2 separate regions of the Homo sapiens genome follow, and region 2 is linked to region 1. The links come from fine-mapping of genetic effects on gene expression. A gene starts in region 1. The other region holds a variant in brackets. All regions are shown on one strand. Distances are from middle to middle.

Region 1 (5,372 bases):
GGTCAAGCGGCTGTCCAAACCACCCAAGGAGAAGAGGGAGTCCTGGACAGCCAGACCCCTGCTAGCTTGGCCACCACAGGCTCCGGCCAGCCCGGCTAGGGAAGAGTTAATCGGATCGGCTTTGGCTGATAGTTCAGGCTCCAAAGTTCAGTCCCAGTCAGAGCCACCCCGGAGGAATTGTAAATCTCAGGGCAGTATTTAACAAAACAAAAGCAACCTGGAATTACATGCAGGTTTGGTTTTCTACAGTACATATTTACTTAATCCCCAAGGTATGCGGCTCCATGTCAGATCAGCTGGCTTTGCGGCCCTTTCACCCCCCTAGTTCACAACAGTTTAAGTTTCAAACTAATTCCCTGTTTTCGCTCTTCCTCTTCACAGGGCTGGCTGGAGACAGCCTGGCCTGCCTCCCTCTCCTGATGGCTCTGGTCACCGCGTGAGTCAGCCTGGCCTGGGCTGGGAGTTGGGTGACAGCCTGCCCACTCTCCCCACTCTGGCACCAGGTCTCCAAAACCTGGAGCAAGGGGTGCCAGGACCACCAAAAAGTTAAAGGCCGTGTTTGGTGGGCAGGACCCTCCTTGCAGCACCACCTTCCAGCTAAATGGGGAGGGATCCCTGGGGGGTGTACTGGGGGGGAGGGGACAGGGTTGAAGGTGAGAACAAGGGCTCTTTATCAGTAGCTGCTTACCCTGGCCTCCTCTTTCCTGCTTTCCAAACACCTGGGCCTCTCAGTGTCGGTCCGGCCAGACTACTGCATACAAGACCGCTCTTCCCTTTTCAAACCCAAACCAAGTACCCTCTCTCGTGTCTTCAGAGCTGCAGCCGCCCAGGTTGGGGCTGGGTAGCGGGTTGCCAAGGAAAATACGAGGCGCCAGCTAGCAGGCGGCTCCCAGCTCTACCCAGGAGTGCGCACACCCTGCACTCACCAGGGTGGCGGCAAGAAAAAGGGGGGAAGGCGGGGGAGGGGGGCACAACACCTTCCTTTGGGAGGCAGGAATGTGGGAAATGGTGGGTCTCTTAGGTTTCAGGGTGGGGGTGAATAGCCAGTCAGCCAGCCACCGATCCCAAAGGAGCGGATCAACTCTGAACCTGCCAAAAAAGACAGTCCGGTGCCCGGGAAATTTACAAGGTGAAACCGACTAGCTCAGCACTCGTGGGTGGCGCGGAGAAGTGGGGTGGCCGGCGACTCTCAGCTCCCGGGCGCGGGATCCCGCAGCGGCAGCAGGTGGGCTTACCCCCGCCCCTGCGGCCCCCCACTCCCTGGAGTCGCAGTGCCTGGTACCTTTCTGGCGCCGCGCTCCGCGAACTCGCGGGCGAGCTGACGCCCGATGCCTCTCCCGCCGCCGGTGATGAGGACGTTCTCCCGCGACAGGTCCCGCAGCTTGGCGGGCAGCACCAGTCCGACGGCTGCTTTCACCACCAGATAGATCATCTGTAGAGGGAACATCACCAGCGCGCCCAGCCGTTTCCACACCATCCTCCGCGCCGCGGAGCCGGGCAGGGGGCGAAACTCCCCGGGCCGAGCAATACAGGAATTAAAAAACACCCCGAACAATAAATAGTAAACCGAATAAGGAGGAGAGAGGCGTCCCACCTGGCCACTCTTGAAATCACCTCTTCCCAAATGCAAAGCACCGGGTGAGAAAAAGAAAAAAAAAAAAAAAAAAAAGATAAATTCTCCTCTGGGGGAGAAAAAGCGTCTCCTAAGGTTGGGACGGTAAAAGAGGTGGAGGGGGAAGCCGGAGGTGGAAAGTTCTAACAAGAAGTTTCTTGCCCCAGCAGCCGTTTCGGCTGGGGAATTCTCAGGTAATGTTTACAGACTGACAGAGGAGTTTAGGGAGGGGAAGAAAAAAAAAAAAAGGCACCAACCACACGCGCGCACCCTGCCTCGGTCCCGCGGTTTCAAAGTGCAAGATTAAAAAAAAAAAAAAAAAAAAAAAAAAAGCTGATTCCAAATTGTAGCGCCCCCACCCCCACCCCGTCTCCAGAAAAAAAAAAAAAAAAAAAGTGGGGGGAAAAAGTGCTTGGAGCTCCCAATTTCAGCCCGCGAAAGTCTCCCGACTCATTGCTATTCTTGGGCTCAGGAAATTGCTTAAACGCGATCTGATTGCCAGCAACGTGCAGGAGAAGTGGGGGGTCCGGGTGTCAGTTTCTTTACGTGCAGCGCTCGCCCTCGCGCGCGCTCGCTCGCTCCGGCTCCCTCCCTCCCTCTCTGTTCCAGCAGAGGCTGGGAGTTGCCGCTCGATCCAGCTCCCCTTCTCTCCCTTTTTAGCATTTATTGCCTTCTTTTTGTCCTTTCCAACTTGGAGAGGGTCCGGGTGTGGAGCGCGCGTGGATCGGACGCCTTGGTCTGCGCGGCCCTATTCATTCGCTCCCCGGGCAGCCGCGTCGCGGAGAGGGCGGCCCCTTTTTCCCCCATTTTTTCAATACCCCATTAAGTCTGATTGACAGTTAAAGTTGTTGGGAGGCTTCACTACCGTTCCTCTGAGTGGCTGCTGCGGCCTCCCCTCCCCCTGCGCCGTCGCGGGGAGCGCGCATAAGGCGCGCACTCGGGCTCGCCGGGACTCGCGCTCTCCCGGGACTGGCTCCCCTCTCTGCAAGCCGGGACTTGCCGCCGGTGTCCCTGAGGGCTCGCAGCTGTAACTCGAACACGCTGGAACCGACTCCGGCGAGCCGGCTGCCTTCTCGAGACGTTCCTCCTTGCCCGGGCCGCCCGCGGGCCAGGTGATCACCCCGAGTGTGGAGCAGGCCCGGGGGAGCTTGCGTATGCCTTGATCCAACCAGGTCACCCAGGGTTTTATTTCAGGTCATTTGGTCATCCTCGGCCTCCAGGTAGGATCAGGAAGCCACTCCTCACCTTTGCCCGGACCTCTTCTGTGTTCACGTAGAGTGGACTTTTAAAAGCCTGACCCAAGTGCCTCACGATGCTTAGGGGGAAGCCGCTGGGGAGCAGGACTTTGCTTTGAGGGGAGGGAGTAGTCAAGGTAAAGGAACCTCTGCTCCGAGTGCCAATAAAATCCCCACAAGATTAGCTGGGAGCATATTTATTGCTCATCTGAGCTAGAATTACCTTGACTGACACCAATTTCCTTAATAACAAAAGCCTGTAAACAAAACGTCCTATTCGTGCGCCCCTGTGCTGTGCAGCCAGCGTCTCCTGTCCTTGGGTCTCCCTGGACTGCCCTGGCGGGGCACCCACCTTCTAACCTCCTGCCCTTCCCGACCGGAATGTCTCCCCTGCTGGAGGGTGGGACCGAGCTATTTAGAGTTGTCTGTTGCAGGAAGTCTGGGAGGTGAGTCACTAAAAAGCAGCCCCAGTTCAAAGTGCTGATGGGACTTGCCTCCCGCCCCCCTGCACGTTCCCGGGGCCGGAGGAGCGAGAGCGAAGCAGGGAGCTGCCCTGTAATCTGGGGCAGCCGTTTCCAGCCCGCGACTTGTTCAGACGGCGATTCCTGGGCCTCACCCCCAGAGATTCTGATTCAGCAGGGCTGGGTGCGCTGGGATCGGTACTTTCAATGCTCCGCCTGGTGAGAAAGTCACTTCGAAAAACGCTGATCTGCGGGGAGGGGAGGCTGGGATTACCTCGTCACCTGCAAAGACCTAGTTCTGGGGAGAGGTTCTGCAGGGGAGGATCTTCCTTCTGGGTGAAAAGCCACTGGAAGAGCAAAAGGCAGGAGAGGCTTAGGATGAGCAACTGTCCTGCACTGAGGGCCTATATTCTGACACAGTCCTTCCCCTGACCTTGCAATCGGGGGACTGTTATCCCATCGTCCAGGTTACCCAGCCAGGAAGTGCAGGAGGGGGGATCCCAATCCAAACCTCTTCCCACTCTGACCAGACGGGAGGAGAGAAGTGGAGGATGGGGTTCAGCTAAGGGTTGCAGAGCAGAGACCCCCCCACCCCCCTAACGCCCCCAAGAGTCTGACCGAAGGGCGGACCAATGTCTCCATCAGACCCCAGGGCCGGAATCCATTGTGGTGACGGCCTCCTCTCATCTTCGAGGTCTGTAAAAATGGGAAAGCGATTCCAGCCTGGGAGTGACAGGCCTTTCCCACCCAGCAGCGGCTGGTGTCCGCCAGGCCTGCGAAGAAGCCTGGAAAGATCTGAAGACAGAACCAGGCTGCAAAAGCGGGCTTTGCTCATCTGTTGTCCTCGGAGCCGCCTGGTGGCCCAGATAGGATACTGCGCCTCCGAGCTGCCCGGCCTCCAACCCAGCGGCGTTCCTGCTAACTAGCCATGCTTTTCTTCCAGGCATTTCTCTCATGTAAGGTTAACACCCCAAGTCTAAAAGGGCTTGTGAAGATCATAGTCCTCCTCCCCCACCCCAAACACACTTTTATGGCTGGGGAAACTAAAGCCAAAAGATATGAAGCAACTCATATACAGAGATGCATTTTCACCCCGGTCAGATGCCAGACCGGCTGGGTAACCGTTAGGTCCCTCTTACATCTCTCTGGTTGTGTGCCTGGGATGGAGGGCAGACGGTGGGAAGGAGGTCGGGAACCCAAATTGGCCTTTAGTGCCTCAGGGCCTTTACACAGTTTCTGATTGAATTTCCTTAACAGCCCAGGGAGGCTCGTGCCCATTTATTGCAGGAGGAAACAGGCTCAGTAAATCTAAGTAACTTGTGCAATGCCACGCAACCTGCTTCTCAAAAGGTTTGGGATGAAATCAGAGGGAAAAAGAACATGTCAGACATTCCCCAAAGGAACTGACAGTTCCAGAAGCTGGCCTGAGGTGGATGGTGGCCTTTTTTTCTACTTGGTCCATCTTTCAGGATGTGGTTTTTGTGGGACTGGCAGCTCTGCAAGCCACACGTTTCTCCCAGCATCAACTGCTCAGAGAGAAACTTGTCACCTCCTCTGTTGCCCTCCCCCGAGGTCCCTGGGAAGATGGGGCCAAGGAGACCTTGTGTGGGGGTGATGTGTGTGTGCACAGTTCAGCAGGCTGGCCCTGAGGGTCGTGTGGCCTGGCTTCAGTGAGAACAGCAGGGACACGTCCTCTCTGCCTTTCCCTCCCTCCCCCAGCCTTTATCCTTTGCTCTTGTACCCTCTCCTGGAATTTAACTCAGGGCAGAGTTTGAAATTTCACATCCCAGGTCTGTCCCTGAAAATGTGAAAGGAGGCTTTCTGGGCTTGAAGGGAAGAGGCGAGCTGCAGTTGGGAGAACTAACTTTTTCCGTGGCTCAGCTCCCCCGGTGCAGCGAGGATCCACACTCACCCTGTGGTTCCTGGACCAGAAGCCTGTTAGAAATGCAGAATCCAGGCCGGGTGCGGTGGCTCATGCCTGTAATTCCAGCACTTTGGGAGGCCGAGGTAGGCGGATCACCTGAGGCCAGGAGTTTGAGACCAGCCTGGGCAACATGGGGAAAC
Region 2 (5,372 bases), 200 kb before region 1:
AAGAGCAGCTAAGGTAACCCTGGAGAAAAAGTACAAAGTTGGGGAGAGCTTACACTATTCGATTTCAGAAATTATTACAAGACTACAGTAATTAAGACAGTGTGGCATTAGTAGAAAGCAGAGCAAAGTGAAACAGAAGAGAGAATCCAGAAATGGATGTATAATACCATCACGTGACTTTTGACAGCATTTATGCCATACTGCGGTAGTGGAACGGATGACCTTTTCAGTAAATATTACTTAGTTCAATATTTATCAGAAAAAAATGAATCTTGGCCACTCCCTCCTACCGTACATAAAAATAAATTCTAGGTGGAGCATAAATAAAATCTAGGTGTGAAGAGTAAAACAATAAAACTTGTATAAGTAAACGTGGGAATATCTTTATGACCTTGGTGTAGACAAAAATTTCTTAACCAGGACACAGAAAGCTCTTACCATATAAGAAAATATTGATAAGGCAGATTTCCTTAAAATTAAGACTGTCTGATCATTAAAAGACACCATTTAAAGAGTAGTAAGATAAGTCACAGAATGGAAGAAGATATTTGCAACACATCTGTTCAACAGAGGACTTGGTATACAGAATATATAAGAACTCCTACAAAGCAGTAAGAAATAAAAAACATGAACTCACTACAAAAATGAGCAAAATACTTCAATAAGCACTTCACAAAAAGATATCCAAATGGCTTATGCATTTAAAAGTTGCTTAATCTCACTTCTCAACTGAAAAGAGACTACGCTGAGGTACCATTACACACCCATCAGTTTATCTGTCAAAACTATGCTGAGATACCATTACACACTGTTCAGATTTTCTGGGTGTTTTTTTGTTTGTTTGTTTGTTTTTGTTTTTGGTCGTTGTTTGTTTTAAGTGACAGGGTCAGCCACGGTAATCCCAGCACTTTGGGAGGCTGAGATGGGTGGATCACTTGAGGCCAGGAGTTGAGCAACAAAGTGAGACCCTGTCTCTCCAAAATAAAAAAAAAAAAAATCAGCTGGGCGTGGTGGTATGTACCTGTAGGGGGAGGCTGAGGCAGGAGGATCACTTGAGCCCAGGAGGTCCAGGCTGCAGTGAGCCAAGATCCCGCCACTGTACTCCAGCCTGGGCAACAGAGACTTTGTTTTCTGTTTTTGAGAAAGAAAGAGTGAGGCAGGGTCTTACTCTGTCACCCAGGCTAAGTACAGTGGCATGATCTCAGCTTAGTGTGGCCTTGACCTTCAAAGTCCAAGTGATCCTCCTCCTCCAGCCTCCTGAATGGCTGAGACTACAGGCGCACGCCACCATGCCCAGTTAATTTTTAAACTTTTTGTAGAGACAAGGTCTTACTTCTTCACCCAGGCTGGTCTTGAACTTCTGGCCTCAAGCGATCCTCCCACCTCAGCTTCCCAAAGTGCTGGGATTACAGGCATGAGCCACCACTCCTAGCCAGAATATCTTTTTTTTTTTTTTTAAACGATCTATACCAAGTGTTGATGAGGGTGTAGAATAGCAAGGGATCTTGTAGACTGCTGAATGGAGCATAAACTGGTTTGACCACTTTGGAAAACTGTTTGGCAGAATATATTAAGATTGTGCATGTACATTCTTTATGACCCAGTTCCACTCCCAGGTATATGTCCAAGAAAAATGCATAAATGTGCCCCAAAAGACATAGCTAGGCAGGGAGCAGTGGTTCACAGCTGTAATCGCAGCACTTTGGGATGCCAAGGCAGGCGGATTGCTTGAGCCCAGGTGTTTGAGACCAGCCTGGGCAACATGGTGAAAACCCTTCTCTACAAAAAATACAAAAATTAGCTGGGCATGGTAGTTTGCACATGTAGCCTCACCTGCTAAGGAGGCTGAGGTGGGAGGATCGCGTGAGCCCAGGAGGTCAAGGCCGCAGTGAGCTGTGATTGTGCCACTGCATTCCAGCCAGGACAACAGAGTGAGAACCTGTTATCTAGTCTGCCATAGACATGTCTAATGTTGTTTATAGCAGCATTATTCATAATATCAAAAAGCCTGAAACAACCCAACTTTTGAACTTTTCATCAACAATGGTGGTTAAATACATTGTTTTATTCTTGCAATGGAGTATTTATATGGCAATGGACGTTAACAAACTACAGCTATATGCAACAATCTAGGAAACCCCCATATG[TAATGTTGTCTATGAG/T]AAGCCACCTACAACGAAGTGCATACTGATGATTCCATTTATATGCAGTTTAAAGCAGAAGAACTTACCTGTAGTGATAGATGTCATCACTGTGGTTGTCTTTGGGGAGGAAGGAGGAGGGAGTGGGAGCATGCTCATGGTGAGTGGGCTGCTTCCAAGATGGGGATAACAGTCTGCTTTCTGATCTGGTGGTGGTTACATTATTGTGTTCACTTTGGGAAAAATCATTTGGGTTTTGAACTATACATTTGATTAGTATACTTTTCTGTGTGTGTGGTTTACATCAGTCAAAAAGTAAAACATGACAAACAGATACAAAACAGACTAAAAGGAATTATGACACAAACTGATAGTGTTTATTTCTGTGTGATACATGTGACTTGGGTGATATATGTCTGTCTATATATGTATTTTTCCCTAGTATTTTACTTTTATAGTTATAGGGAAAATCCTTATTTATAAACATCAAAACCTGACCCTCATTCGAAAGTTAACATGACTTGTAGCTTTAATGGAATCTAGAATTATAGTATCACAGAAGGCCATCATATGACTTAAGTATGTCATTTCCTTTCTTCCCTAATTAGGCCCTAAAAAGCACCTTGGGGTTTCCTTTGATACGGTTTGAAGACGCTGTGATTAATCTAGATCCATTCACTCGGGTACATCCCTATGAGACCAAGGAGTTCATCATCAATGATATCCTCAAACATTTCCAGGAGGTGAGGCTTGGAGAAGTAATCATTGGCTGGAGCATAAGCAGAATGTTTGTTTTAGTTGTTTGGGAATTTTGGTTACTAAGGCATTACTATTGAGAACCCAGTTAAACATTTCAACTCTGTTGTGTTACGGGTCAGGTCACTTCCCAAGAAGCCCGTATGTGTCATGAAAATCCTGAGATAGTACATTTGACCTATGAGCTGTTAGTTTCATCCCTCAGAGCTAGTCTGAGGGGTTCCTGCTAGATTAATCATGACTCTTAATGGTTTAGTTGATGCTTTAATAATAACAAAATAATGTTTTTATTTACCAGGCATGGGCCTTCTTTCAGCAACTACACCCATGTTCTTAGAGTCTGTGGGATCCTGCATTTGGGTTGAACTTGAAATTTTTTAAATCACCTTGGACATTTTCCATTTTGTATTTATTATCCAGACTGCAAAGATCAAAAAGTAAAGGCAAGGCATAATCTTCAATGAATAGATAGGTCAAGATCGTATCAAATTTAATAGCTTTCAAAGTTAAAATATATTTTATTCTCACTTCCTTTTCTCCATTCCCCGTTTCCTTTTTTGACTATCCTAATTGGTGATATTTCCACCTAACTAAGGAAAGTGATACAGCAGATATCACTGGAACCTGGGATCAGGCAATTGGAAGTACAGAAAGAGTGGAGGGGCCAGTCATGGTGGCTCACACCTGTAATCCGAGTACTTGGTGGGAGGCCAAGGCAGGAGGATCACTTGAGCTCAGGAGTTCAAGACCAGCCTAGGCAACATATTGAGACCCCATCTCTACAAAATATAGAAAAAAAAGATTAGCTGGTTGTAGAGGTCTTGCCTGTAGTCCCAGCTACGGGAGGCTGAGGTAGGAGGACTGCTTGAGCCCAGGAGGTCAAGGCTGCAGTGAGCCACGGTGATGCCACCTCACCTCAGCCTGTGTGACTGAGACCCTGCTTCAGAGAAAGAAACAGTGGAGGTTTGCTTGATAAGTCTCTCCATGCCTTCTTCAGGCCCCCCACCCACACCACAGCTTATGAGAGGAACTGTAAATCTACCTCTCTTCCTCACTTTCCTTTTGTAATTCTCCCTGCTGGTGATTACTTCTCTATTTGTAGGCATGATGAAAAGGAGAGTATGATGTATATAGTAGCAAATACTCATAAGAATGCTTCCTGTTTCATAGCTATTTTTATTCTTCTAACTGGCTTGGAAGAGTATGTGTATTGGGATATGTGTATTGGGAGAAGCTTAGGTGGTGCTCCTGAAAGGACAGGAGATTATTTTGCAGTTGATGAAGATTAAAAGCTTTTAATCTCGTTACTTGTAGTAATGAGAATGGAGAACAAAATAGATTTCTAAGCTCTTCGCTTGGGACACTGGTATCTGCAAATATAAGTAGATGCTGATTGGACTTTTCTCTTCCTGTTCCATTTGGCAGGAACTCCTCAGCCAGGCAGCTCGAATCCTGGGATCAGTGGATTTTCTTGGCAATCCTATGGGGCTTTTGAATGATGTTTCTGAAGGGGTTACTGGACTGATAAAATATGGAAATGTCGGGGGCCTCATCAGAAATGTTACACACGGAGTATCAAACTCTGCTGCCAAGGTAAGGAAATAGAGGTGAAATTCCATTATAATTAACCTCACGAGTCCTCTACAGTACTACAATTTCTTTTATAGTTAATGGGCTGTGAAAAGTTATATTCATGGCTTTTGCTTCATTGCCCACATGCCTTGCCTTTTCCTCACCTCCAGTCACCTGCCACCAGGTGCACTGAGTCCACCTCTGAAATACCTCTTCCTCCTTCCTCTCCGTTGCCACTGCCTTAGTCCAGGCATTGCGTATGTCTTACCTGGGTCACTGCAATAGCCCCCAGCACCCTGGACCTTTCACGATGACCCCTACACCTTTCACTGTGCCACCAGAATGAACTCACTGGATTGTGCCATTCTCCTGCCTGAGATCTACCAGTTATTGCCCACAGTTTACAGGGAAAGTCCAAGCTGAAGTACAGCCTTCTATAATGACAACAACCTTTTAAGCCACCTGAAACCAGCAGCAGATGGACAGTGATGTCATTCTCCAGTATCTTGCAGCTAGTTGACTGGTTTGTTCACTGACATCTTAATTCGTGGACATTTTCTTAGTTCACTCTGTATTTTCTGGCAGGAATTGATTATATGCGAAGCTGGAAAAGGTGAAGCGAGTTGAAGGTAGTTGCTATTTGACATACAGCCCTCCAAAGAGCTCTGCTTTTTTTCTCTTCCTTTCATCTCAACACACTTTTCTTGTAGAGACTGGCTTTTTCATGAATGAACTCATTTGGAGGAAACACCTGTACTCTCTGCTTATTTACTGTGGAGAGAGCATTTTTGTAGTGAGATCACAGGTGTACTTGCGCCACAGGGTGATATGACATAAAAGTAGCTTTACCAAAGAGATCTTTGTGGCACCGCGTAGAAATGTATCTTGAAGAGGAGGTAAGAG

What was found. PIP is the estimated chance that this variant, and not a neighbour inherited with it, causes the effect. A credible set is the group of variants that fine-mapping cannot tell apart.
Region 2: its variant is the best candidate, but not a certain one, in a credible set for the expression of DHRS3 in whole blood (INTERVAL, PIP 0.73).

What each region holds. Positions count from the first base shown.
Region 1 is chr1:12,615,872-12,621,243 of GRCh38, forward strand. It overlaps DHRS3 (dehydrogenase/reductase 3), which reads right to left and starts at 2,339. Exons shown (of 6, transcript NM_004753.7): 1 at 1,283-2,339. The coding sequence starts at 1,477. RefSeq lists enhancers at 1,964-2,595, 2,596-3,227, 3,228-3,859 and a silencer at 4,095-4,346.
Region 2 is chr1:12,412,338-12,417,709 of GRCh38, forward strand. It overlaps VPS13D (vacuolar protein sorting 13 homolog D), which reads left to right. Exons shown (of 70, transcript NM_015378.4): 64 at 2,750-2,884; 65 at 4,323-4,490. Among named protein-coding and RNA genes, the nearest start is that of SNORA59A, 92 kb to the right of the region's middle. The variant TAATGTTGTCTATGAG/T (reference allele first, on the strand shown) is at 2,148.